Homo sapiens: one gene and its partners. The protein of the gene in region 1 interacts with the protein of each later gene in a pairwise test. Each region holds a gene or a part of one and is shown on either strand. Other genes may lie near its edges.

Region 1 (7,825 bases):
AAAAGTGATGTAAGAAAAGCATGATTTCTGCTTGCACGTGGTTTACTGTCTAGTGGACAGAGAAAGACTAACGAGAGAATTCCTGTTATGAAAGGCAGTTGTGCACAGCTTCTCACCCCCTGCATCGTTACATAAGAGCAGCCTTGGGCCTGGAACATTTTCTTGCACAGAGATAAAGAGTCATCATAGCCTGTGCTAGGCACATCTCTGCTTTGTAATAACTTTCCCCGTTCCGGGTTTCACGTGTACTTCTTTGTTCTTAAGCGCATGGGTCAATGGCCATCAAGTGCACCTCCAGCTTTCTATAGTTCTGGCCCCAGGGGGATGGGTTGAGGATCTTCACCTGCAGCAACAGAGCAGTGTATGCATTCCATCTCCCTGCATCAGCTAGAGGTCAAGACCCACTGCCATGGGGGCACACAGTCATCACTGAAGCTAATCCTGTTCCATCTCTTCTCTATATGAGTAAAGTGTTTTCCATCCAGTGCCTGTGTGAATCATCTTTCTTGGTGACATGGACATCTCCAAACCATACAGTAAGTTAACATCCTGGGACTGCTGCTTTGGTGATAAGCAACAGGGGTCATTTGCTCAACAACGACTGTAATGAAACTCTAGCTGAAAGAAAGGAATGCCTGCTTTAAAAGCACATAATTTAGGGACTTGACCCAGTTTGGATGTATGATCCAGATTAGGGGATGCCGGGGAAGTATCAGTGAAATGACTGAAGTGAGAAAAAAAGTATAAACAAGTGCTAATTAGTAAAATAATGTACAAAGGTCCTATGGCAGGAGTAAACATGATATATTTGAAAAACTGAAAGAAGGCTGGTTTGTCTTCAGAGCATGAAGTAAGAAGTAGTATGGGTTAATAGAGACTGGAAAGAGAGATAGAGAATATACCTTGCAGGGCCTTCCAGGTCACATTGAGAATCTGATTGTGAATCCACTAAGAAATGGACAGCATAGAAGAGTGTTTTACAGAGAGTTTTGACACAGAGAGATCTGGGTTTTGAAGAGATGGGGCCTGTTGGCTTGGGAAAATGGATCAGAGAGGAAGAAAATGGACACAGAGAGATGTGTGAGACCGTTGCCAAGATCCAGAAAAGTGTGCATGGTAGCTTAGACCAGTGGTTCTCACCAGGGAAATTTTACTCCTCTGAGGACACTTGGCAATGTCTTGAGACATTCTTGGTTGTCACACCATGTGTGGGAGGATGTTACTGGCAACTAGTAGGGAAAGGTCAAGGATGCTACTAAACATCCTACAATATACAGGGCAGTTCCCTCAACAATCATCTGACCTGAAATATCAATAGTGCTCCAACTGAGAAATCCTGGCTCAGACCAAGATGGTGGCTGAGAGAGAAGGAAGTACATATTGCAGAGACGATTAAGAGGCTAAAATCAGCAGTAATTAGTGACTGATTGATCGTGTATAATGGGGGAAAGACTATCAAAGGCAACCCTCAGGTTTCTGGCTTGCTCACCTGGATGAGTGGGGAGTGCCGAGATGAGAAATGCTTGAGGAGTTGATGGTTTGGTAGGGGAAGATAAGGAGCTCTGCTTGAAACCCTGTAAATGTGAGGTGCCTATATGACACTTGAAAGATGAAAAACACAATTCTCTAGGTCTACAGATCAAGAGGGGAAGCCTGAACCCTGTATTTGAGAGCTTCTGTGAATAAAACAGAAGACGTAGGCATGGATGAGATTACCTAGGAAAAGAATACAGAATGAGAAGAAAATAATCCTGGAGACTGAGTCTTGAGAAACTCCCAGGAAAGGAGCAGGAACCAGCAAAATTGTCTAGAGAAGTGGGAGGACATGGCACGCATCAGATGCTTCAAGAGGGCCTGTTTCCTGGCACCTTCTCCAACACAAGCACCACTGATTATTATTGCTATTTTTTTTTGAGACAGGGTCTTGCTCTATAGTCCAGGCTAGAGTGCAGTGGCATGATCTCAGCATCTCAGCTCACTGCAGCCTCCACCTCCCAGATTCAAGTAATTCTCGTGCCTCAGCCTCCTGAGTAGCTGGGACAGGCATGCACCACCACACCTGGCTAATTTTTGTATTTTTTGGTAGAGACGGGGTTTCACCATTTTGGCCAGGCTGGCCTTGAACTCATGACCTCAGGTGATCAGCTGACCTCGGCCTCCCAGAGTGCTAGGATTACATGCGTGAGCCCCTGTGCCTGGCCTAGATCTTTTTAAACTTTGCTAAGCTAATCAAGTCTAATCAGTTTTTTTTTAATCTTGTTTAAATATACCAAAGTTTTAGTTGACAATTTTTGGTAAATAATGAGATTAAGCATCTCTGCCATGTTAGTCAGCCATTCATATTTCTTTTGTAAATTGGCCAATGCATGTGACTTGCCCATTTTCTATTTCAGATATTCATATTTTTCTATAGACTTTAGTATATCTTACGGTTTTAAACTCTTTACTGTCACATTCTTAGGTATTTCCTGAGAATTTATCTTTTTTTTGGTGGGGGGGGGTTGCAGTGGGTGGTGTCTTTCTATTCAGTCATTTTTCATTTTCATGGATTCAAATTTGTTGACTTTATTTCTCTTCCTGCTTTGACTGCATAGTAGAAGAGACTGTTCTTTCCCAAGGATGATAAAAATGTTCTTCTACATTTTTTAGTATGTCAAATTATTTTATACATTTAAATTTTTAAACCACCTAAAATCTATTTTTGTGGGTGATGAGTAATTAGAATCCTTTTCCAAATGAGCCAGTTGTTTCAATACCAGTTATTGAATAATATGTTATTTCAACCTGTTCTTTATCTTATAATCCTATATCCAATAGTCTGTTGTGGCCTATCTTTTTTGTTCTTTAGATCTCTCAGTATATTCCTGTGCCCAAGCCAGGCTGTTTTTATTACTGTGGCTTTACAATATGTTTTGATAGCTGGTGGGCAAATCTGTATTATTTTATAATCAGGAAAACTCACAAAGGAGTGTGTGTGTGTGTCTGTGTGTGTGTGTGTTCTTGCATGTGGAAGGTGGATGAGGAAATGCCTTTGAATGACTAGGTCTACTTTGGAAGCTGCAAAGGAGTTTGACACAGTGCCTGGAGCAGAGTTTCCAGAAAAGCTTGGAAAAATAAAAGGAGAATTGGAGACTACAGGGCTCTCAAAGGAGGCTGATGCTCACACTTACAAGGTCTGTAGGTTGATGCAAGCAGAGAGGAAAGCTGGCATGGACTGATCTCTGTTATTTTTATACACTAGCACTAACTGCCTTTCAAGGCCCATTAGGCCTGGAAACCTTTTCCCAGCCCCTGGGAAGTCACTGGGGATGCTAAGGTTAGTCATTCACCCACTGGGGCTATCTAACTGAGCTCAGGTCCGGGTGCACTGCCAGCAGCTGTTTGTGTACTTACAGCCCCCTGGGTGCAGACGGACCCCCAGCTGCCAGCCATATGCCTTATGTTTCATTGTCCCACAGCTTTCAAAGAAAACAAGTCTTTTAATTCAGCAAGTATTCACTGAATGTCTGACACCCCCAGTGCAGACCCTGTCCCAATCCCCCAATGGGGTCCACCTCTATCCAACTCTGGGTGAATGACCATGGTGCTCTTGCGCGCGGGCACACACACACACACACACACACACACACACACACACACACAGGCACACACACATAACTCAGGCTTGGGGCCCACCTCTCTGGGCTCAGAGGTATCAAAGCAGGGGCATTCCTATCTTAAGGACTTCTTGTCTTAGGGGCTTTGGCCCCACCTGCACAGGACAGAAAATTAGTGGATTTCTAGGAGAAAGCAGGCTATGGCAGGGTATAGCCAGGGACTCAGCTCTTCCTTCCAGACATGCAGGAACCATAAGGAGGGATGGTCAAACAGGGCCTGCTTAGGCCTCTTGCTGGGATCACTCCAAGGGTCTCTGGGGTCACTCAGAGGAGCCGGGAGGCTGCCTGCTGCTGTACACTGAGACAGACTCCTGGGGTGTTTGGATCACGGCAGCCCACATGCTGCCTTTTTGTTATCTTTTCTGTTTTGCCTCTTCCGGGCTGTACTTGTCTTGAGTTTTTGGCCTTATGACATCCATATTAAATGGGGTAGGGCAGAGCATTGCTCAGTAAACAGCAAGAATGGCCCTGGGCATGGCCAAGGCAGTTCTGCTAAGTGTGAAAGGGAATGTGCCTGCCATACTTTGTGCTTTAGGCCCAAGTGACCTAGGGGCCAGCCTGCCTACTGGCCTCACTCCCAACATTACAGGTGTTTGACTCTACTCCACCCCGTGGAGAGACGGAGCACAGGAGCCACCCACCGGGGGACCACATAAGGTCATGCACACCCACAGAGTGCCCAGTCCCTGCCTGGCCTTGTCCCCATTTTCCCTCCACCTAGGGTTGGGGTGACAATGGAGGTAACTAGAAGACAGATCAAAAGGTTCTTGGTCTTGACACAGATGCAAGAAGGAGGCAGATAATAGACACCTCCCTTCCCCCTCGCCCACATAGGCTCCGGTGGGTTCTCAGGGCAAGGCCTGGCTCCCTCCTCTCCGACTTCAGGTACAGGTGAGTGTGGAGGGAACTGAAAGAGGAAAGGTGAAGTGCTGTTTGGCTTCGACCTGGAGGGGGACAGAAGGCTCTCTGGGCAGGCAGGGCCGGTCTTTTGGCAAGAGGCGCGCTCTCTCTCCCTTCCCCTTCCATCGAGGGCTGGGTGTGAAGGTGAGAGCAATCAGAAAAGAAGGTGAAGAGGTACTTGGCCTTGACACGGACGGGGGGGGCGGTCCCAGGCCGAGGCCGCCCCGCCCCCGCCCCGCTATACCCGGCGCCGCCTCCCGGCGTCTGAGCTGACACCTCCTTAGCGCTGGCCGCGGGCCGCCTCTGCGGCAGCGCTAGTCGCCTTCTCCGAATCGGCTCCGCACAGGTAAGATCAGGGGACCCGGCGCCTGAGCTGCCGAGGAAGGAGTCGGGGGTGCTGCGTGAGACTGAGAGTTGGGAGGCAAAGAAACAAAATCGGATTTCCTCAGAGGGCCAGAGGAAGAGACTGAAACACGGTAGCCCCAAATCCTTGGGCGGCTGGGAGGTGGTCCCTGTCATGCCCACGACGGGTGGGCGCGTCTTTACCGACAGCCTGCATGGATCCGCAGATGTGCTGGGCGCTTAGATGCCTGCGGCTATGCAGAGACGCAGTCCAGAGAGGTGACCCCAGATCCTGGTGGGGGCTGGATCCCAGGGCCCCGACATCCCTTTGCAATTTCCAGCCAGCAGCTAAAGACTCCCTTCCCGGGGCTTTAGAGAGGCTCCAGGCTCGCGATCCATGAACACACAAAAACCTTCCTTGCTCATGTTCTGAAAAAAAGCCCCGCCTCAGCTTTGTGAATGTTAATAATAGGGGGAAGATTTGTTCTCTCTTGGGTGTGTGTACAGGTGGAACAATCTGCAGAAAAAGACCTTTTTTCGGAAAACCTTTTCAGTTTGAAGTTTCAGCAAATCCATTTTTCATTTCCTTTCATTTGGGGAGATGACATGAAATTTAAGCTCCAGCTTTGGGGCTGTCTCTGAAGTTCTGGGGTTCGGCTTACCTTTCCCGGGATGAGGTTTTGATTTGGAGGAAGTAAAATGGGTTTTGTCTTAACCTGGGCTCGTTCTTTAAACTTGTGAGGCCGGGGCGGTGGACTTACTGACATCCTGTATTCTCTCACCTGCAGCTAGGAGAAAAGATGTTCACTGTGCTGACCCGCCAACCATGTGAGCAAGCAGGTTAGTATCTCTCAGCAGGTAGCAAGCGTGGTTTTGCCAAATCGCAAGAGAACCCCAGCTTCGGCCTACAGTTTTTCATCCATATCCCCTGCAAATGATTGTTTAACTTTATTGGTTTGAGACTCAGTACTCAGCTGGGTTTCAACACCGGCATTCCTCAAATAAAAGTAATGCTTTTCATCAAAGCCACACAAAACAAGGACTAACATGCATGTTTCACTTAAATGGTTTTTCCGGTTTGTATAATCCATTAATTTGGCCCTTGTGGTTTCCCTTAGCTAGCTGTGTGTAACGTTTGCTTTAGAATACTGTATTGTTGATTTTGTGATCAATTGTACAGTACTTGGATCTTTCCTGTATTCCCATCCAAATGTTGCTGGCACAGTGCCTACAACACCCCCACCCCTCACTGTGAGTCAGTGTTGTTATGGTTGATACTGCAGGCACAAGTGCAGGATTTTCTCACACTGGAAGGCACACACACACAGACACACACACACACACACACACACACACACACACACACACTTCTAAGCTTGCCCCGCCTGCCTCTAGAGCACTTTTTGGAGTTGCTCATGTGGAAGCCCAGAAGGCTCTGGCTTCTCCAAGCTCAGGTAGGTACCTTGCAATTACCATGTTTGTCCAGCCCTAATGACAGCACAGCTCTAGGCTGCATTTCCTAAATGAGTAAGACCTGGTCTCATCCATTTTGCTTTGTAATAAGCTTTTCTGCAAGGACAAGAGTTTGCTTAAGGTAATCATAGCTTTTTACTTGAAAACTGCTGAAACACAGAAGACTTAGGAGGCCAGCCACGTAGCTGTGGTCAGGAAACTGCATACATATCACACACTCCTCCCCCATGGATAGACATTCTTTAGTCATGCCCCTAAATTGGGTATTCTTGTCTTCCAAAAGGATATGATTTTAGGATAGTAAGGGCAATCTATATGAACTTTTATTTTTGTAAAGGGACATTGCACTTGAGGAGCTGTTTTCCTTTGATCTTTAGGTTTTCCCCCAAAACACTTTGAAATGTTAACACAGATTGTAACGTCACTCATACAGACTAACCTGTTACATTCCTTCCAAAGGACAAGTTTAACTTGGCAGATTAAATTTCTACCCCATTTTGTTAGAGGGAAAAAATCCCTTAAACTTCTATAACTAACACTGACAAATGCATTCTTTGAAAGCTAATGCAAAAGTTTGCCTCTGTGGATTAACTGGTTCCTGTACTTTTATTTGGAATCACAGAAAAGTGATACAGGACCTCTTTACATGCTCTGCAGGTCAACTCCATGGCAGTTGGCTCTCCTTTCCATTGCTATTACCCACAATTCTGTAATGAGTAACCTTGTGTCTAAGTCATTTTACACATGTGGAGCTAGTTCTGTGGGATAACTTCCCAAAAGAGTGATTGTGAGTCAGATGGCATGCTTATTTGCAGTTTTCATAAATATTGACAAGTTGCCCTCCATTGATGCTGTACCAGTTTACACTTTCAATGACAAGGTAGGAGGATTAAGGTGTTAAGTGACCAACTTTGACACCAAGAAGTGTCTGTGACTGCAGCTACACTGCAGGGGAATCAGTTGAGATGGAAAGAGTTAGCTGTTCTGAGCCATGAAGACCTACTGCGTGACTGCCCTCCTGTAGCAAATGTTGTGATGTGACTGAATTTGGGGGCTGAATCTAATTATATCGTGGGCGCATAGACATGCCCTGTTATTCTTCTGGGAAAATGGCTTACAGAAATAATGGAGGGGTAAAGCATAGGTTATAATGATCTAGGAATAATGTTCTGGAATAAGACAGGATCTATCCAATTGCTGTTCAATTGATCTTCCTATAATGATGAAAATGTTATATGGCTGCACTGTCCAATATAGTAGCCACTAGCCCACATGTGGTTATTGAACACTGGAAATGTGGCTAGTAAGATTGAGAGACTGCATTTTTTTATTTTAATTAATTTACATTTAGATAGCCAATTGATTAGATATATATTGGAATTCGATGAATCTAGTGATCTTTCTATTAGTGTTCATCATATTTCAACCATTTGGTTGTCATTTATGTTGATGTC
Region 2 (7,025 bases), on another chromosome or scaffold:
CCTTCTCCCTAGTATAAAATAGTAAGTTAAAACTGAATTTGAAGTTTAATAACTTTTAATATTTAAAAACCCATCTTAAAGTTACCAGATACAAGTTTAATTCCCCTCCCCCGCCCCGCCCCAGGAAATGTGTCCTTTCCCAGTAGTTCTTAGAGTAGTTGAATGTGTACTCACAACCGTGCTTGTAAATGGCTGGTGTTTTTTTCTAGGTAAAGTTGAATATTTTGTTGGTTAAAATGCCTCATCAACAATGTCTGATTAACAAAGTATTTGTGATGCTTCCATGAAGTTTCTTTTCTTAGCTGCTGATGCTTGTTCCTGTGAAGAACGTGCCTCTGACAGTTACGTGGACAGGGCTTAAAGAGTAATCTGCTCAATACAATCTGTACTGACAGATGTAGTTTCTAACCAGTGATGCTGTTTTTGAGCAACCAGTCATTTGGGCATAGAAAGTTTGCGTGACTTGGTCCAGATCTCTGACACTCTAAATCCAGAAAGATATTTCTGATTTACAGAAAGTAAAAGACTCGCCCATCCAGCAGGTACTTGAATGTCAGGCCTCTAGCAGATCATGTGCTGGGTGCAGAGAGACACAGCAGTGAACTGAGCGTGGGTGGGGATGCATGCAGCCTGGGAAGGAAGAGTGACCGAGGTGTAATGAAATTCACTGTAGGACGTAAGCAAAATGGAATAGCTATTCTATAAGATAACCACCCCAAACGTATTTTGATTACTTTTTAAAAAAAGTTTATGAACATTGATGTATTTATATTTGATACATATATATGATATATCTATTTATTATAGTGAAGAATAGAGAAACCACACATTTCATCTGTGGGAATTGTTTGCATGATAATAAACAATAAATACACAGTAGCTGTGTGGTGTTCTTAGTAGACCTAAAAGAAATGAGAACGTTATTTTTCATCCTGGTTTCAAGGTGATGAATTGCAAATCTCTTTTTTTTTTCTTTGAGACAGGATCTCACTGTGTCGCCCAGGCTGGAGTGCAGGGGCACGATCATTACTCATTGCACCCTTGACCTCCCAGGCGCAAGCCATCCTCCCGCCTCAGCTTCCTGAGTAGCTAGGACCACAGGCGCGTGCCGCTGCACCCAGCAAACTTCTGTATTTTTTATAGAGATGGGGTTGCGCTGTGTTGCCCAGGCTGGTCTTCAACTCTTGAGCTCAAGCAATCTGCCCACCTTAGGCTCCCAAAGTGCTGGGATTTCAGGCGTGAGCCACCGTGCCTGGCCTGCAAATATAATTTCTTAAAGGGCGGAAAACACTGCTCAGATATTTTTAAAAGTTATTTTTTGACAGCTCATGTTTGTCCACGTAGTGCAGAATGTTGTATAGTGAAGATGCAGGTTCCAATTCATAAAATAAGAAGATTAAAAAACTTCACTGGAACTTAAAATACTAAGAGTTTAATATATGAACATAATTTTATATATGCATATATTTATAGTTTAGAATGTCATAACTTATGCAATCCTGCCAAATTTTTATATTTTGTGTGTTCTCATACAAACAGTTCCTACAGTTGGAGTCTATAGTTTCTCTATTCTTAATTATAATAGGTTTACTCATTTGTATATCTAAACATGTCCTTTAGTTTGAAGAGCAAAATCTATATGTTTTTACAGATTAATCACTTCTTGTTTTTAACTTGAGGTCTATTCTGAATTTAAGGAGTAGCAACTGTAAGAAATAACTGATCCATAGAAGAGCTCCCTAGGAGCCCAGATCTATCGCCTTGTGGTGGCAGGATTTGCTCCTGCCTCCGGACTGATACGCCCCTCCTCCCTGCCCTTGCAGGTGCTGCTCCCTTTGTCTGAACCACTGGACTTCTCCCTCTGCGCCTTCTCTCTTGCCTTGTACCTTTTTTTTTTTTTTTTTTTTTGAGACAGAGTGTCGCTTTCTTGCCCAGGGTGGAGTGCAATGGTGCAATCTCAGTTCACTGCATCCTCCGCCTCTAGGGTTCAAGGAATTCTCCCGCCTCAGCCTCCCATGACACCCAGCTGATTTTTGTATTTTTAGTAGAAGTGGAGTTTCACCACATTGGCCAGGCTGGTCTCGAACTCCCGACCTCAGGTGATCCACCCGCCTCGGCCTCCCAAAGTGCTGGGATTACAGGCGTGAGCCACCACATGTAGCCTTGCACCTTTTTTAGTCTCAGGTTAGGCATCACTGGGAAGCCTTCCTGCCTCCCTTTCCTCGCATGTTCCCACAGATGGCCCATCTTGTCTTGGGGCATTCTGGACACAGATGCAGTCCTGTTTTTTCCTGCACCCTTCCCCCAGTGCTTCAGCCTTTTCAGGACAGATGCATACTGTCATTTGTGCTCTGAAGCCTCAGTATTCTGCATGGTGCCTGATCCAGAGCACCTGCCAGGTATTTATTGAATCAGTCTGTTTCCATTTGAAAATGCCCATGGTAAGAAAAATGTAGATGCCACTGGAATCTGTTGTCTTCAAGGCCTTTTGGTTAAAAGGGACAGAAACCCATCAGCTAAAGCAGAAAAGGGAGATTTATTAAAAGGCAGAATGGGCTGGGTGGGGTGGCTCACGCCTGTAATCCCACTACTTTGGGAGTCCAAGGTGGAAGGATCACTTGAGGTCAGGAGTTCTAGATCAGCCTGGCCAACAGGGGGAAACCTCGTCTCTACTAAAGATGCAAAAATTAATTGGGGGTGGTGGTAGGTGCCTGTAATCTCTGCTATTTGGGAAGCTGAGGTGAGAGAATAGCTGGAACCTGGGAAGTGGAGGTTGCAGTAAGCCAAGATCCTGCCACTGCACTCTAGCCTGGCTAACAGAGTGGGAATCCATCTCAAAAAAAAAAAAAAAAAAGGTAGAGTGATTTCTCCCAGGCTTTGAGGGCACGTAGTACCATCAGCCCTCATGAGGGATGGAGTTAGGACGGAGCGAGCCACTGAGGTCCTTCCTGTCCTTGTGTCGTGGCCGTTTTGTGCTTGCGGGGTCTTAGTCTGTGTGTGTGTCTCTGTTTCCGTTTGTTGACGTTTGTCATTTGTGTGTACTTTCCCACTCTCCTCCCCCTTGTCTGTGTCTGCCCTTCTCTTGCTCTTCATTCATTCATTCACTCGTTTGTTGACCTGGTCATCACTGACTGGCGGCTGGGTGCCAGGCACTGCTGTGGGCAGAATGCCTGGGTTGTGAAAAGACAGAAGTCCTTGCTCTTGTGGAACCTGCAGCTGGGAGATAGACAGCAGCTGAGCAGATGAATCAAGTGTCTTTCGCAATCCTTGCTGTGAAGGAATAAGCAGGGCGAGGGTGTGGGTGTGGCTGCCTTGGCCGGGTGGGTCAGGGGGCCACCCCGTGAGCTGAGCTGTGGATAAGAAAGCGGCTGTGGACAGGGCTGGGGGAGGGTGCCCTGGGTAGAAGGCACAGCAAGTCCAGAGGCCCAGAGTTGGGAACGAAGTCATGCAAGGGACAGAAAGATGCTGTCGGTAGTGAGTGGATGGTCAGCAGTGGGCGGAGGTGAGACGTGAGTGAGCTGAGGAGGTTGGCTGGAGCGAGATCCTGAGGGTTTCTCTTCGTCTCCACGGCCTGGTGTAAGGGGCTGCCCCCGCCCCCAAGTTTAAATGCTCTCTAGTTCACGCTCTCTAGGCTTCATCATGTCAGTTCTGATCCTCATTCCTGGGGCGAGATCATGTGGTGGGCCCTTGGTAGCTCAAGATTAGCCTGGCAGTGTCTCATGTCCATGTGCCATGCTGGGGGCATCCAATTTATTGCAAGTGCTTTGGAGAGCAATTTGGCATTGTTTAGTGAAGCTGAAGACGCTTAAACCCCATGGCTCGGTGGTCCTCTCTCTGCATGTGTGTGTATGTTCCAGAAAACCATCCTGACATGCATGTGCAGCCTTGTAACTGTGGTTCGTTATATTGTTGGTAATGGAAAAATATTAGGCACAATAGGAGCCTGGATGGCTACCTCATGGCTGTTTATATAATGGAGTGTATGCAGCAGTAAGATGAATGTATGAGGTTGAACCATATGGTGTGGTTTCACCTAACACTAGAGCAATATATGCTGAGTGGAGAAATATGAATGTATAGCTGAGAGGAAAAAAAAAAATGATTAAATTGCAGAGGCAGGCCGGGTGTAGTCGCTCATGCCTGTAATACCAGCACGTGGGGAGACCAAGGTGGGAGGATTGGTTGGGCCAAGAAGTTCAAGGCCAGCCTGGGCCACATGGCCAGACCTCATCTCTAAAAAAATATGTGTGCCTGTAGTCCCAGTTACTCAGGAGGCTGAGGCAAAGGGATCACCTGAGCCCAGGAGGTTGAAGCTGTTGTGAACTGTGATCACGCTACTGCACTCCAGCCTGGGTGACAGAGCAAGACCCTGATTCCAAAAAAAAAAAAAAAAAAAAATTGCAGAAGTGTAATACTATTTACATAAAGTCTAAATGCCTGTTAAAAAGTATTTATATAATAATAATGGAAACAAGTGTTAGTAAAAATACAAAAAAATAAAAAAGTATAACATTTTATTATAGGTATAAAAGTGTAATTCACCATACAAAATATGAGAAAGTAGGTTACGTTTAGCACCATATTTACAAACTGGCCCAGAGTCAGCATTTACATATTTATTTATTTGTTTTTTGAGACAAAGTCCCTCTCTATCGCCAGGCTGGAGTGGCACCATCACTGCTCACTACAGCCTCAGTCTCCTGGCTCAAGGGATCCTCACAAGTGTGAGCCACCACGCCTGGCTAATTTTTGTATTTTTTGTACCAAAAATGGGGTATCACCATGTTGCCCAGGCTGGTCTCAAACTCTGGAGCTTAAGTGATCCTCCCAGTTAAGCCTCCCAAAGTGCTGGGATTACAGGCATGAGCTGCCGCACCCGGCCAGCTTTTACCTATGTTTAATTACAAGTATTCTTTTCTTTTTTTACCCAAGTGATTTAATTGTGAAAAGTAAGTCAAAGTATTCTAGCAACAAAGTACTAAAACCACTGTGTATATGTCAAGGTTTATAATTTATTTGCCCACAATTATTATTTGTATGGAAGGTCCTTAGCATGTGTGTGTGAACAACAGGCAGAAGAAAGCCAGGATTCTGTCCAGCTTTGGATTCTGCCATTTGTGGTAGTTCAGCTTCTATTGAATTATAAATGATGATCGTTCCAATGGCAAATTACTCTTCTCTGTTAAATAGTCTCTAAACCAGGAAGCTACCTGCTACCTGTTTCTGACAATAGTATTCACACAGGGAGAGTTGTGATTTTACTATAATGCTACTTTTAAGGAGACTTCTGTTAACATTTAACCGAAATGGAATGTTGATATTTAAATGTTTATCCTGTACTTCGACACTTGGGAAATCAAGTATGTCATATAGAGAGTATTCCCTGGCTTTTAGTAAATGTTTGCCACTAGCAGTTTGGTTATTTACAATAAATACCCTCTCATAATCATGGCTGTTGTACAGCTGTTGCACTATCTCAGCCTGAAAGACTGAACATGGACATTCATTGAAGACAAGAATAATGTAGCTTAGGGATAAAGCCAAAAAGATTGCTTTGGTCATTTTGTTTTGTTTTGTTTTTTTGAATGGAAAAGCAAAGACAGTATTATTGGGTCTGTTTCCTGTTATCTAATCAGTTTTGAGACTTCCAGGTAGAAATAAGACATATAAGTCAAGGCTTAAGAATAAGAAATAAGACAATAGAGGAAACATATTCCAGTCATGTGGATCTTTCCTGGTCTACAGGGAGAGAAACAAATTGTTTACCAGCAAGCGAATGACTTGGAACAAAAATCCGCCCGTGCCGTGGGTTCAGAGTGGAGGAGGATTGACGCCACGCCACTGTGGGGGGTGCATCGCGCAGCATGGGACGGTCACCATGGGAGAGGAGGGTTGAGCCTCTGGTTGTTTACGCCACGCCACTGTGGGGGGTGCATCACACAGCATGGGACGGTCACCATGGGAAAGCAGCTTGCTTTCACAGGGAAGCGTGGCGCTGGGGAGCATTGAGATGGGTGCAGCCTCTTTCCTGGAGCTGCAGGTGCAGCCTCCACAGTAGCATCTGCCTCATGGGATTTGCCTCACGATGGTCTTGTGGTGTGGGGGGTAGGAAGTAGTGGGAAGTGGTGGGTGTCCACCTGAAACAAGACAGGCTGTGGCTTGACCATTGTTGAGCCTGGGTGATGGCGACACTGAGGGCTCACCATAGTATTCCTTCTACTTTTGTATATGTTTACAGTTTCCCAAACAAACAAAAATGAGGTGACTTTGAATCTAGAACCTAAAGTTCCTGGCAGAGCAGGGAGGTGTGAGATGCCCTGAGAGCCATGTGGCACCTCCAGGGTGGGGTGAAGCACTTTTATGGCCCGGGGCTCAGGGCCACAAGGGCCGTCTGCAGCTCACTTTCAGCTCTCCACCCCTCCTCCCCACCCCCTCCATGGGTATTTGGGTGAATGCACAGTCAGTCAATGACTTAAAGCGGTGATGCTTCACTCCATCATTCCTGGCCCTGCGCCTCTGAGACCGCACAGCTGAGAAGACAAGGCAGATAGCCATAGGGAAGCAGTGAGACCCCGTGCCCAGCTAGTGGGATTTAATGCCCAAGTGAGCACTTGGAGACAGGGAGGGAGCAGGCTGTGGGCCCGAGAGGCGGGGCTGGCACGCACAGGGGAGTAGATCCTCTTTCTAAGAGAGGGGGTCCCCCGCAAGGGGAGTCTGTGGGACCTGGCCACCTGGCCTGCATGGCTGGTGGGGCTCCGCAGCACAGCTCCTCCCCGCATCCCATCTTCCCCCAGGGTAGAGTGTGCTTGTTAGAGCAGGGTGTGTGGAATCACAGTCACAGGCCGTTTTCTGCTCTGCCGTCCCTGCGAGTGATCCCTGCACTGTGTTTCAGCCTCCTCACTGGCAACATGGGGACCATAAAATTAATGAGAACATGTGTGTAGAGTATTTCAAATTGCCAACTCTTGTGAGCTGGAAGTAAAGGACGGCTCTTACTCTTTTTAAGAGGGTCAACATGGTAATAG
Region 3 (7,025 bases), on another chromosome or scaffold:
CTGTACCAAAATATCTCATGTGCCCCATAAATATCTAACCTACTATGTACCCACAAAAATTAAAAATTGTCCAGGTGTGGTGACTTATGCCTGTAATCTTAGCACTTTGGGAGCCAAGGAGGGAGGATCGCTTGAGCTCAGGAGTTCAAGACCAGCCTGGGCAACATGGCAAAAAAAACATCTTTACAAAAAATACAAAAAATTAGCCAGACATGGTGGTATGTCCCTGTAGTCCTAGCTACTCAGGGGTTTGAGGTGAGAGGATCACTTGAGTCCGGGAGGTTGAGGCTGCAGTGAACTGTGTTTGTGCCACTACACTCCAGCCTGGGCAACAGAGTGAGACCCTGTCTCAAAAAAAAATTTAAAAACCAAAACAATAAAAACAGCAGTGGCAACTATTGTTTATAGAGGGTTTATGGTGTACCAGGCCCTCTGCAAGAATTTCTAATGGAATTCTCTTAAGAACCCTATGTTTTACCATGAACCCTACTTTTGGATGAGGAAAATAAGCTTGGAGAGGTTAAAGCACCTGCCCAAGCTCACACAGGTGACAAGTGGGAGGCCCCAGGTCTAAGCAGTGCTGAAGACGTCCCGCCTCAGGCAAGGATCACTTCCCCAGCACTTGCCTCATCATCTGCCATCTGACCTGTGGACCCACTGTCTGCACACGTTGAGCCTGGGAGTACGCACCTGGGAAGTCTTGGGACTTTCCTGTTTAAAATCTCCCCAGAGTGGGGTGGATTCAGGGTCTACAGCTCACCTCTGTCCCAAACTCATGCAGCTTTGAGAGACCAAGATATTCAGAACCGAGTGTGTTTTCTTTTCTTTTTCTTTCTTCTTTCTTTCTTTTTCTTTTTTCTTTTTGTTTGTCTGTTTGTTTTTTGAGACAGAGTCTTGTTCTGTTGCCCAGGCTGGAGTGCAGTGGTTCAATCTCGGCTCACTGCAACCTCCGCCTCCTGGGTTCAAGCAGTTCTCCTGCCTCAGCCTCCTGAGTAGCTGGGATTACAGGCTCCCGCCACCACGCCTGGCTAATTTTTGTATTTTTAGTAGAGACGGGGTTTCACCATGTTGGCCAGGCTGGTCTCAAACTACTGACCCGCCTCAGCCTCCCAAAGTGCTGGGATTACAGGCATGAGCCACCATGCCCGGCCCTGAGTCTGATTCTTAAGCTGGGTAAGTTTCCATGTATTAATTTTATTATACTTTATAACTGATAGATATACAGTCTATATATTCTACCAGTGCACAAGATATCATAATAGAAAAGGCCATGATGATAAAGTGAAAGGGAGAGATGGCATTTATGCTAACATTCACGATTTGAGTAATCAAATGAGTGAACGAATGAAGCAATCTACTTTAAAAAAGAGGGCCATCAAAGCTGGAAGTGTAGAAGTGTCCTTTCTTTTACTATCTATCCACCCACCTATTCATTCCTCTATCGTCCCCACCCTACTCCATCCTGCCTTCCTTCCATCCATCCAATAAATAAACATTTCCTGAGCACTCAGTCATTATAGCTGTACCTAGGGAATAGCCGCAAATAATTGACTGACACACCCTGCTCTCAAGGAGCCCTCAGTTTAGTTCAGAAATGAGGAGGCCAAGGCCCAGAAAGGGAAAGTGATTTGCCCAGGGTCACACAGCAAGTGAGGGAAATGAGGTAAAGAAGGGTGAGGGTATTCCAGGTGGAGGGGAACCCATGGGCAAAGGCTCAGACCTGTCTGCCTCCAAAGCGAGCCCCTGTCAATCACTGCCTGAAACCCGCCTCCTGGCTCTCCATGAAGGCCTGAAGAGCCTGCCTCACTCCATCGCTACTTTCATTTTTGTTATTCTTTTGGAAGGGGAGGAGGAGCCAGTGGCTGCTGCTGTCCAGCTGTTATGTCGGACCGCACATCCCAGCCCAGATGTGTCAAACTCTCTGTGATGGGTGAAGTGGCTTCTGGGCCACGAGCCACGAGCCAACGGCCAAGGAAGCGGCAGTGAAGGCTCTGTCCCAGGGGAATTAGGGGAGGAGGCACACTGAACCCGGCGGCAGGGAAGCCCATGGTTGCTCCAGCTATCAAACTGGCCTTGTAGACAATATGGTGTGTCTAGGTGGTGGGGATCAAGATCTTTGACATTCCAAAGAAATCAATACCTTTGACATATTTCCTCTGAGGGTCAGAGTCCTGGGGCATTTCCTGCCTCTCCCAGCTTCTCCTGAACCAGACAATCCCACCCCCACACATTCCCCAATCCTGGTCCAGGGTCCTGCCATTCAGTCTGGCTTCCCCAGGGCTGCTCAAGAGGGTTACACAGAGTTCCAGCTCACAGTCTTGACTTAACTCCACCCAAATATTCCTCCTCCATCCTGCCCCCAGGAGTGCTGAGACTTCCAGAGAAACAGCCTGTTCTCCAGCATCTGGAGCTGGTTTCTTGAGGGAGGTTCAAGGGCAAGCCAGGTTCCAGAGAGAGATGCTCCAGGAGGGCCTCGGTACCAGGACTCGCACGAGGCACATGATACAGGGAGAAGACACAAAACAGGGATGTCCTTTATGCTCCCCTCTCCTGGTGCAGTAGCCAGGCCAGGCCAGGGCAGACAGAAACAGAGTCTCCTGAGGAGTCCTGGGAGCTGCAGAGAGCAAAGATCCAAGTCCCCAGAAGGGCTGGGGAACAGCATCCTGGGGGTGAATCTGATAGGGTGTGAAATGGGATGTGGGAGCTTATTCAGGGGATCTGGTTTTGCCCATAAAGCTCTAGGCATCCAAGGTGCCCTAAGGATGGGAGTGGGTGAGGATGAAGACAGGGACCCTGTGATATGAAAGATCCTGAATTTTCCTTGCTCTAGAGGGGAAATCTCAAACTAGAACAATGAGAGAACTTGCTTGTAGCTTCTTCTTGCTCCCCTCTTTGACTCTCCATAGGACTCCTGCCCTTGAGCAGAGTGCACAATGGATAATAATGCCTATACGTGTTCAGTAAAAGGAACATGGCCCCAGTCCCTGTGGAAATGCCTTTTTTTTTTTTTTTGGAGATGGAGTTTTGCCCTTGTTGCCCAGACTGGAGTGCAATGGTGCGATCTTGGCTCACTGCAATCTCCACCTCCTGGGTTCAAGCGATTCTCCTGGCTCAGCCTCCCAAGTAGCTGGGATTACAGGCACATGCCACCATGCCTGGCTAATTTTTTTGGTATTTTTAGTAGAGATGGGGTTTCACCATGTTGGTCAGGCTGGTCTCAAACTCCTGAACTCAGGTGATCCACCTGCCTCAGCCTCCCAAAGTGTTGGTATTATGGGCATGAGCTACCATGCCTGGCCAGAAAAGCCTTCTAATAACTCCTTTGCCACTAAGGAAGAGGGAAATTGGGGCAGCATGTGCAGAGATCACCTTCTGAGAAAGCTTTCATGACCTGTAGCCTGGCTCAGCCTCCTGCCATGCTCTGCTCCATCATGGCGCCCACCATGGTGTTGATACTGCCTATTTCCCTCTCTGTCTCTCTCATTCGTCCGCGATTGACTGGAGGGTCAAGTGTGTTTTCTTCATCTGGGTTACCCTGGCACCAGCATAGATGTTCCTTCAGTGCCCAGTTGCTGAAGGAATGGACATGTGTATTAATGAATGAGCAAGTGAATTCCCAGCTGGTCCAGGGAAGCCGGAGGGACCTCACAACATATCGGGGCACAGACAGCACTTCTGTGGGACCCAGCATCCCCACCACCCTAAGGGATGGCCAGTCCAGGATCCTGAAAACCCCAGGATCCCTTCAGGAATCATAAGTACACCTCTTGAACACTTAGATCTGATTTTTTGGGTCTTGCTCTGTTGCCCAGGCTGGAGTGCAGTGGCGTGATAATAGCTCACTGCAGCCTTGAACTCCTGGGCTCAAGTGATCATCCCACATCAGTCTCCTAAGCAGCCAGGACTTCAGGTATGTGCCACCATGCCTGGATAATTTATTTTTTATTTTTTGTAGAGACGGAGTCTTTCTGTGTTGCCCAGGCTGGTCTCAAACTCTTGGCCTCAAGTGATCCCCCTGCCTCCGCCTCCCAAAGTACTGGAATTACAGGTGTGAGCCACCACATCCAGCCTGGGATTTTTTTAAAACAATTTTTCCCTTCCCTTACAAGGATTGCCCCAGTCTAAAGTAATTTTCTCTACAAATATAGTAAGTCCTTGAAATAGAGCAAAGTTCACTACAATGTGACCCAAACTTGACTTCTGTTCTATGCTCAGGCCCCTTCTCAAATAAAAGTGAGCAAAACTCCATTCTCTATGGGGCTGGTAAAAAAAAGTGACTGCCTCATGCTCCTGTGGTACTCTTTCTGTTTGGTCTGCTTTGTGCAGTAAGGTGTCACAATTTTTACTTTCCTGCTTTTTGTGATAGTACAGACCATCTGAAAAATACTGTTTTTCGTTAATTCTACAAAAATATTACTCCACATTTTATGTAATTGGAAAATTTATTTTTAAATTTGTATTATTATTATTACTTTTAGAGACAGGGTCTGGCTTTGTTGCCCAGGCTGGAGTGCAGTGATGCCATTATGGCTCACTGCAGTCCCAACCTCCCCAGCCCAAGTGATCCTCCCTCCTCAGCCTCCTAAGTGGCTGGGACCACAGGCATATGCCACCATGCCCGGCTCATTTTTTTTTTATTTTTTGTAGAGACGAGGTCTCCCTATGTTGCCCAGACTGGTCTTGAACTCCTGGGCTCAAGCAATCCTCCTACCTTGGTCTCCCAAAGCATTGAGATTACAAGCATGAGTCACCGCAAAGGAACATAATTGGAAATTTTTGACTGGGCATATTTATTGCATTATTGTAGAATTTTACTACATTGAGCATCTATTTTGTCCCATGTGACTGTGCTAGGTTTATGTCAATGCACAAAACTGATATGGACTCTCCTCTTATGGAACTTACTTTCTCGTGGAGGAAATAGACAATAGGCCATTAAAATAATTGCAAACTGGGTTAAGGGCTAGAAGATATCAAAAGACTAAAACAGAAAAGAACAGGGGGGTCCCACTTTAGGTAGTCAGGGAGCGTTCCCTAAGGAGGCAATATTTGAGCTGGGATCAGAAGGCTGAGATGGACAGACTGGGGGAAAAGCAGTCCAGATGACAGGAACAGCATGTGCAAGGGCTCTGAGGCAGGGCTGGAAAAGGCTTAGTCTTAAATTGGGTGAGTATGGATCCAGGAGTCCTAGAGCAATCTGAAGAAGAAACTGGGGAAAACGGAAGCCCTAGAGACAGTGCTCAAGAGTGACACCTGAGCCACAAGTTCAAATCCCCTGTGGGTCAGCCAGCTGTAGACTATTCTAGACCAGGGGCTGCAGAGGCCTGTGCAGTAGGGGGATGGCTCAAGGTAATGAGAACTCATTAAAAACCATGGAGAGCCCTTCCTGGACCCCAGAGACAGTGCAGGGTCTGCAGGACCTCGATGGCTGCAAATAGATGGGCTTAAGGACACTTTTCCCTCTTCTCTAAGAATGTGGGGTCTGGTTTGGGCCCCTTTTTCTTCATCCATCCATCCATTCATTCATCCATCCATCGATTTATTCATTCATCAACGGTTGTTAGGCACTGGGATACAGCAGTGAACAAGACAGACCAAGCCCCTGACTCAAGGAACTGTTCCCTCAACACTGGGGGAAGCAAAACCCAAATCAAACCTCTGCTCAAAACGAACTTAATGTTTTGATAGAGTAGGTATCAGAGGTCTCCTTTCTGAATAGGCACCCTGAGATTTGGGCTCCTCCAGTAGGTTTTTCATTAGATCTTTTCTAGCAGATTGCACTCTGAGACCAGAGTGCCTTAGCACTTCTGTCCTCTTTCCTGTTGGTGAGAACTTAAACAGAAACACACACAAATCTCCCCTTTTAAGGACTGTTAAAGGCCCACCCACAGACATAGGAACACCCAAACACACATACTTCTCTAATCTCCCTAAATCTCCCGAAGGCTGGGGGTGGGGGTGCCTCTCTGCTTCCCAGTTAGCTCAGGAGAAGCCAGGCTAGGCGTGTGGGGAGTAGCGATCAGCCTTAGCCCCCACCGCCTCCCCGCAATGCTGGGCTGGTCCCTGGGTCCCCGTCACTCCCACACCTGGCCTCCCCAGCTGCAGGGAGTAAACGGGTGTGCTGGGCAAACATCCTTGCAGCTTCCTGCTGCTCCCCTCTGAGAAAACAGACCTTTTCTTCCTCCTCCTTCTCCTCCCCACACCCTCCCAGCTGGGGCTTCTCTGGGATCCCAAGCCAGTTCCCTCTAGAGAAGCCAGACATCCCTTCCCCTTAGCCAGAGGAAGGAGGGGACAGCACACAGACCTAGTGTTTCCATCTGGAGAAACGACCTGCTCTCCCTCTGGTCCTTTATCCCAGTTCTTGGAGCCCAGACCCTCTCTCTCATACTGGCCAAGGGGCTGAAGGACCACAGAGTACAGTGGCTCAAGGGTGGCCACATCAGAAACCATGGGAGAGCGGGAGGGGCAGGGAGGAGATGCCCCCACATGGGACAGGAAGGGCAGCCCCCTTCTGAGGATCTCTGAGAATCGCATAAACAGAATTGCAGCAACATGAAGGTATCCTCATAGAAAGAAAAATAAGGCAGCCCAGCCACCTCCAAACACACTTGTCTTGACTTTGTGTACTCACTCTCCTGTCTGTCCAAGTGCATGCGTATTTCTTGCATAGTTGTTTTCAGGGTGAGCATACATTTTGCATTTTGCACAGAGCAACAGAGCACACATGATTTCCACATGATTTATGGCCCGTATCTGGATTTTTAAGGAGGATAGCGAATATTCTGCTCTCCATTTTCCAGACTGAGAGGCACACAGACGCCATCCCTACCCATCCTTAACCCTGGAAACATTTTCCTATCCTCATGCAGAATGAAGAAGTTGGGGGAAGGGTTGGAATGGGATCTCAGCTGGAAAGAACCTCGGATATGGAGATGGAGACCCCAGAGAAGGAAAGTGACTTGCTATGTTCACACAGCAACTCGTAGCTGAGCAATTCTCACTATCACGCCCATCCAGTCTCTATG
Region 4 (7,025 bases), on another chromosome or scaffold:
TCCACAGCTGGAGCAGAGGAAGGTGGGAAGCGTATGACCGTCCTGTGCATTCCCCTTTCTGACCACAAGGTGTCGCCACTGCAGCGGAAACATTAGTTTTCTCCGGATATCAGAAATTACTAGTCCCTTTCCGAAGGAAAAGGGGCTTGGGAGCCCCAACTCGGAATCAAAGAAGGTCCTGTGGCACAAGACCTGCACTGGTTCATCCCAGCAGCTTCCAGTGCACACGGTTTGCATCAGGGAACTGGGGGAGGATAGCGCTGACTCATTGGACTAGGAAACCCCATGTTCCCCACCCTAAACAAGGCCTAGAGCTCAAAGCTGGACTCTGACAACTAAAAAAGTCCTGACTGTCTGCAGTGTGCTGCCTACACTAAATCCAGAGTCCGAGCTTCACACTCTTAAGTGGTGGGGATCTGTTATGAGCTCTAGACCTCCTAAGTATGCCCAGGGCCATAGAGCATTTCCTAAAGTGTGTTCCTTCAAGATGCCTCTTAAAAATAACAAATCCGATTCATTTAGCAAATGAGAGCATGAATACCACACCCCGCTGTCAGAAGTTCCCAGTGCTCAACAGCATTGTAGGAGCTCTGAAAGTGCTGCCCTTAGAAAGATTACTTAATCCTAACTCAGTGATTCCTAAACTTGCTTTTTTAGGGACTCCTTCTCCATGCCGCATGTTAATATCACATGTAAACAATGTTCCAGAAAACATACTGAGGCGTGGAATTCTAGGATAGAAGGGGACACATTTTATGAAGAATGAGCATCCAGAGAGTAGTGTCCTGGGGGTCAAGGGAAGAATTTGAAGAAAGTACAAGTGAAAAGACTGAAAGAAAATAGCACCAAATCAAAGTGTTATTTATAGGTGATGGAATTATGAATGATTTTTATTTGTTCTCTCTTCTTTAAAGAGGCATTCCTTGGCCCTTTGGATGAGATTAAAACCCCTTGCCATAAGCTCAGATAGTACCTCCATCTTGAACTGTAACCATCATTGTTTCATGTCTGTCTTCTTTGGGAGACTGGAAACACCAAGAGGACAGGGACCCTCCTCATCTCGTTTATAGCTGTGATCAGCAGCTAAAGATTTTCTGTATTGAATTGAATTGAAATAATAGTTTTATATCATTTATAAATTATTATAAGGAGCATACATTGCTTTTATCATACAAAATTTTATTTTTATACATATTTTTTTCGAGATGGAATCTCGCTTTGTTACTCAGGCTGGAGTGCAGTGGTGCGATCTCAGCTCACTGTAACCTCCACCACCCAGGTTCAAGCGATTCTTTTGCCTCAGCCTCCCAAGTACCTGGGACTAGAGGCGCACACCACCATGCCCGGCTAATTTTTATATTTGTAGTAGAGACGGGGTTTCACTGTGTTAGTCAGGCTGGTCTCGAACTCCTGACCTCAAGTGATCTGCCCGCCTTGGCCTCCCAAGGTGCTGGGATTACAGGCGTGAGCCAATGTACCCGGCCACAAATTTTTAAAAGAAAATTATCAATGGCTCCAGGGAGTTCTAGACCTGAAACAGGATTTTTGTTCCTGTTTTATAATTTCTTAATTTTGTGACCTTGAGCAGTTCACTTAACTTCTTTAAGCCTCCAGTTAACTCCATGAATTGGAGATTGAAATATTGAGGATTGCTGGAAGGATGAAAGGACATCACATTTGAGGATGTGTACTGAGCAGCACATCCGGAGAAGGAAAATCTTGAGATGCAATCTTGCAGGAAAGTGACGGTGGGGCGGAGAGAGGACAACTCCCCTGGTTTTGCCCCTAGCACCAAGTGGCAAGAGGCAAAGCTGGTATGATTGACAGGGCCAGATCTGTGACCTGAAGCTTGGACTTGTTACTGAGGATTACGTCTAGTGGTTGCTGGGCAGCCCCTGAAATGTCTGAACAGAGCAGTGACAGGATCGTATTTACAATTTAGAGCGTCTCTTAGGGATGGCGTGTAACCACCTGGTGGCAGCAGGGATCAGGCAAGGCTGGCTCTGCAGCAAAATTAGAGGAGGTAGGTCTCCAGCTCCTCTCAAAATAGCAGTTATAACAAAGCATCTTGGATGGCAGGACATATACATATGCCCAAGCACAAAGCTCTTGCTTTCAAGATGAAGAAATTCATAGGATGATAGATTGAGGGGAAAGGTCTTCCATGAGATATTCTGGTCCGTTCTCTTCGATTCAGGAGGATCAGGTGTTTTCACTCCTGCTTTCCGAAGGAAGCCTACAGCTCAAAGAAGTTAAATGGCTTGCTCAAGTGGCGGCAGATGTAGAGGAAGAGTCTAGACAGTCTGCCTCCGTCCCACCCCAACAGCACACACATTCACCACCCCCCATACCACACACACTACACATGCAACACACACCACACATCACACACCACACACATTACACCCACCACACACCACACATCACACACTGCACACCACACATACTACACACGCCACACACACCACACACAGTACACACCACACACACCACATGCAGCACACACACTACACACACCACACACACCACACACCACACACACACCACACACATTACACACTCACCACACACACTACAAACGCTGCCACATACACACCACACCACACGCACCACACTACACATGCCACACACACCACACACACGCCATACACACACCACACACACCACATACATCACACACTACACACACACTACACACACCACACACCCACCACACACCAGACACATCACACACTCACCGTACCACACACACTACACACACCACACACATCACACACTCACCACACACACTACACACACCACATACACACATACCACACATATGCCACACACACCACATACCATACACACACTACTCTCACAGAGCACAGCACACACACGCTGCACATCACTGACACACCACACACCACACACACTGACACACCACACACACTGACACACCACACACACCACATAACACACAGACACACACACACACATACACCCCACACACCTCTCTCATGGCAGAAATCCAGAGATCAGAGTTTTTGATTTCCAAAGGCTTCTTTCATATGAGTCTAAGCTAAGAGATTTGGTTTCTGAAGATCATAAAAGTAATAATATCTTCTGATTAGAAAGCATTTTCATGTAATACATAATGTGCATTATGTTTCCTGAGCACTTACTACATATCAGGCATTCTGTTGTGGGCTTATATTTATTATTAGTACCTCATTTTATGCTTGCAAGTACCCTGTGAGGCAGGTACTATTATTTCTGATTTTAGATGAGGAAATGGAGGTTGAATGAAGCTGAGTTACTTGCTAAAGACAAATTAATAAGTGGCAGAGCCAGGTGTCAAACCCAGGGTGCCTGACTGAATTCTGAGCACTTCACATTGTGGGCCCTGCCTGGTTTAAGCGTCCTGCAGCCCTGGAGGTGGACATGGGGCTCCGGCCTGAAGAAGCTCAGTGGCAGAGGTTGTGCTTCCCAAGGAGTCCAGACCTCCCATTCCTGGCTGTCTCCACTCCACTGTAGTGCCTCTCTTCACCCTGACTCTTCTTCCCCTGCAGCCTCAGGTCAGCCTGTCTCCCTGAAGAATATCTCCACAGACACATCGGGTTACTACATCTGTACCTCCAGCAATGAGGAGGGGACGCAGTTCTGCAACATCACGGTGGCCGTCAGATCTCGTAAGAGCAGCCTGCGGGGGGAGGGCTGACAAACGCCACAGGATAACTGGTGGGGGTCCAGAAAGTCAGCTGAGACCACCGTGAGGAGGAATAGGGGAACCTCTCTAGGGCCACGCACCTGCAGGTTAGCTGTGGTGACCTAGGCAGGATGACTCTGTCCCAGGCTCCCCTCACTCTGAGGCCAGTCCAGTTCCACTGGTGTTTGGAAGTGGAACCTAGGACTGACTTCTAGGACTCAGAGGCTTTGTCAGTCCCACCTGCCTAGGAACCACTCGGTGGGCGTGGAGGAAGTGCCCAGGGCAGCTGCCGCAGAGTCTGGACCACATCCTTCTGGGGTGAGACACCAAATCTAGCTTAAAGAGCTGGCTGGGCTGACATCTGAGGACTTTTGCAGAGCCAGGGTAGCCCGGAAAGTGTTAAGATGTGAAGTGGACCATATGTCTCTGTCTGCACCTCCATCCTGAAGAATATTCCTGGGCCATGGCTGGTCACATTCCTCCAAGACCATGCCTTTCATGGAGTGTTACCAGAAGCTGGTAGCTGCTGCTCCCCTGGCTGGGAGGAGACCCGGAGCTAGCTTAGAAGCTCGGCAAGTGCAGCTGCTCTGTCCTCTTGCAGCCTCCATGAACGTGGCCCTGTATGTGGGCATCGCGGTGGGCGTGGTTGCAGCCCTCATTATCATTGGCATCATCATCTACTGCTGCTGCTGCCGAGGGAAGGACGACAACACTGAAGACAAGGAGGATGCAAGGCCGTGAGTGTCTGGGCTGGTAGCCTGTTGGAAGGGTCTGGGGAGACTGGAAATATGCTTCCCAATTCCTCACAGCCTCTTCTACTTGCAGCACCCCTTGGGGTATATCACCCCCATTTTGTGCTGATGAAACAATGACCTGTCCAAGCCATAAAATGTGCATTGCAGCCCCAGGACCTGCCTCCCAGTCCTGTGGTTTTCCAGTCTGGGAGCTCAGGGCCGGGCTTCCTGTGGCATGACTAGAGCCAAGTGTGGCCTGGAGCCCCTGTCACGGGGCCAGTTCCTCCTGGGCTGGTAAAGCCAGCCTGTTCCTGTAACCCCCTCAGCTCATGCGTGGAACAAGTCTGTGGCACCTTTACTCTCAGCCCAGCCTTTCAGCCCAGTGTCCTCTGCAGCTGGTGGGTGGGGAGGAGGTCTGGAGGCTGCTCTTCCTGTAATGCACATGAGGCCCAGCTCCCTTGAGGGTCCACCTGAGAGCAAATCCTTCCCCTCTGTCCCCTGCTGCCCTGCAGGAACCGGGAAGCCTATGAGGAGCCACCAGAGCAGCTAAGAGAACTTTCCAGAGAGAGGGAGGAGGAGGATGACTACAGGCAAGAAGAGCAGAGGAGCACTGGGCGTGAATCCCCGGACCACCTCGACCAGTGACAGGCCAGCAGCAGAGGGCGGCGGAGGAAGGGTTAGGGGTTCATTCTCCCGCTTCCTGGCCTCCCTTCTCCTTTCTAAGCCCTGTTCTCCTGTCCCTCCATCCCAGACATTGATGGGGACATTTCTTCCCCAGTGTCAGCTGTGGGGAACATGGCTGGCCTGGTAAGGGGGTCCCTGTGCTGATCCTGCTGACCTCACTGTCCTGTGAAGTAACCCCTCCTGGCTGTGACACCTGGTGCGGGCCTGGCCCTCACTCAAGACCAGGCTGCAGCCTCCACTTCCCTCGTAGTTGGCAGGAGCTCCTGGAAGCACAGCGCTGAGCATGGGGCGCTCCCACTCAGAACTCTCCAGGGAGGCGATGCCAGCCTTGGGGGGTGGGGGCTGTCCTGCTCACCTGTGTGCCCAGCACCTGGAGGGGCACCAGGTGGAGGGTTTGCACTCCACACATCTTTCTTGAATGAATGAAAGAATAAGTGAGTATGCTTGGGCCCTGCATTGGCCTGGCCTCCAGCTCCCACTCCCTTTCCAACCTCACTTCCCGTAGCTGCCAGTATGTTCCAAACCCTCCTGGGAAGGCCACCTCCCACTCCTGCTGCACAGGCCCTGGGGAGCTTTTGCCCACACACTTTCCATCTCTGCCTGTCAATATCGTACCTGTCCCTCCAGGCCCATCTCAAATCACAAGGATTTCTCTAACCCTATCCTAATTGTCCACATACGTGGAAACAATCCTGTTACTCTGTCCCACGTCCAATCATGGGCCACAAGGCACAGTCTTCTGAGCGAGTGCTCTCACTGTATTAGAGCGCCAGCTCCTTGGGGCAGGGCCTGGGCCTCATGGCTTTTGCTTTCCCTGAAGCCCTAGTAGCTGGCGCCCATCCTAGTGGGCACTTAAGCTTAATTGGGGAAACTGCTTTGATTGGTTGTGCCTTCCCTTCTCTGGTCTCCTTGAGATGATCGTAGACACAGGGATGATTCCCACCCAAACCCACGTATTCATTCAGTGAGTTAAACACGAATTGATTTAAAGTGAACACACACAAGGGAGCTTGCTTGCAGATGGTCTGAGTTCTTGTGTCCTGGTAATTCCTCTCCAGGCCAGAATAATTGGCATGTCTCCTCAACCCACATGGGGTTCCTGGTTGTTCCTGCATCCCGATACCTCAGCCCTGGCCCTGCCCAGCCCATTTGGGCTCTGGTTTTCTGGTGGGGCTGTCCTGCTGCCCTCCCACAGCCTCCTTCTGTTTGTCGAGCATTTCTTCTACTCTTGAGAGCTCAGGCAGCGTTAGGGCTGCTTAGGTCTCATGGACCAGTGGCTGGTCTCACCCAACTGCAGTTTACTATTGCTATCTTTTCTGGATGATCAGAAAAATAATTCCATAAATCTATTGTCTACTTGCGATTTTTTAAAAAATGTATATTTTTATATATATTGTTAAATCCTTTGCTTCATTCCAAATGCTTTCAGTAATAATAAAATTGTGGGTGGAAATTCTTATTTCTTTTTTAATGTGGATTTTGTTTGCAGTAAGATAAAGCTTGGGTCTCATGGATCATCTCTACTCACCATAGCACTCTTCTGCTTCCTAGGGGAGGTGAGACAAGGTAACAGATTTGAGAATCCTGGGGTCCCTCTGCTTGTGGCCGCAGTAGGGTCAGGCAGTGCCTCTAGTGGTTGCTGGGAATAGGACAGATTCCTGCCTGCTGGTGGAGGTATATTCCAGGAGTCTGCAGTGTCAGGACACCAGGAGGCCTGGGTGTCGGTCCACGTGCTTGAAGGAAGATGGTGGAGATGCTCTAGCCAGTTCTGCTTCCTATGATGCCCCTTCTGAGAAAGGGGCGGGGCAGTCCTCTTGTTCTGTCACAGAGAACTGTGACGCTTCCTCCTCCAAGGCAACTTCGCTCCGCTGTGGGCTCTTGGCTTTGACATGGACTCTCCTGCGAGATATTCAAGGTCT

Evidence for each region.
Region 2: the proteins of ENTPD3 (region 1) and STX2 interact in binary tests that used the Homo sapiens proteins (3 or more experiments, as listed by UniProt).
Region 3: the proteins of ENTPD3 (region 1) and CREB3L1 interact in binary tests that used the Homo sapiens proteins (3 or more experiments, as listed by UniProt).
Region 4: the proteins of ENTPD3 (region 1) and GPA33 interact in binary tests that used the Homo sapiens proteins (3 or more experiments, as listed by UniProt).

What each region holds. Positions count from the first base shown.
Region 1 is NC_000003.12:40,382,360-40,390,184, forward strand, and holds the start of ENTPD3 (ectonucleoside triphosphate diphosphohydrolase 3), read left to right. Parts: upstream 1-4,824; 5' UTR 4,825-4,902; exon of another isoform or gene 4,903-5,032; intron 5,033-5,686; 5' UTR 5,687-5,698; coding exon 5,699-5,738; intron 5,739-7,825. UniProt on the Homo sapiens protein: Has a threefold preference for the hydrolysis of ATP over ADP.
Region 2 is NC_000012.12:130,829,240-130,836,264, reverse strand, and holds part of STX2 (syntaxin-2), read left to right. Parts: intron 1-2,122; exon of another isoform or gene 2,123-2,273; coding exon of another isoform or gene 2,274-2,399; intron 2,400-7,025.
Region 3 is NC_000011.10:46,280,643-46,287,667, reverse strand, and holds part of CREB3L1 (cyclic AMP-responsive element-binding protein 3-like protein 1), read right to left. Parts: intron 1-7,025.
Region 4 is NC_000001.11:167,052,376-167,059,400, reverse strand, and holds the end of GPA33 (cell surface A33 antigen precursor), read left to right. Parts: intron 1-973; exon of another isoform or gene 974-1,094; intron 1,095-3,551; coding exon 3,552-3,671; intron 3,672-4,289; coding exon 4,290-4,425; intron 4,426-4,934; coding exon 4,935-5,067; 3' UTR 5,068-6,565; downstream 6,566-7,025. UniProt on the Homo sapiens protein: May play a role in cell-cell recognition and signaling.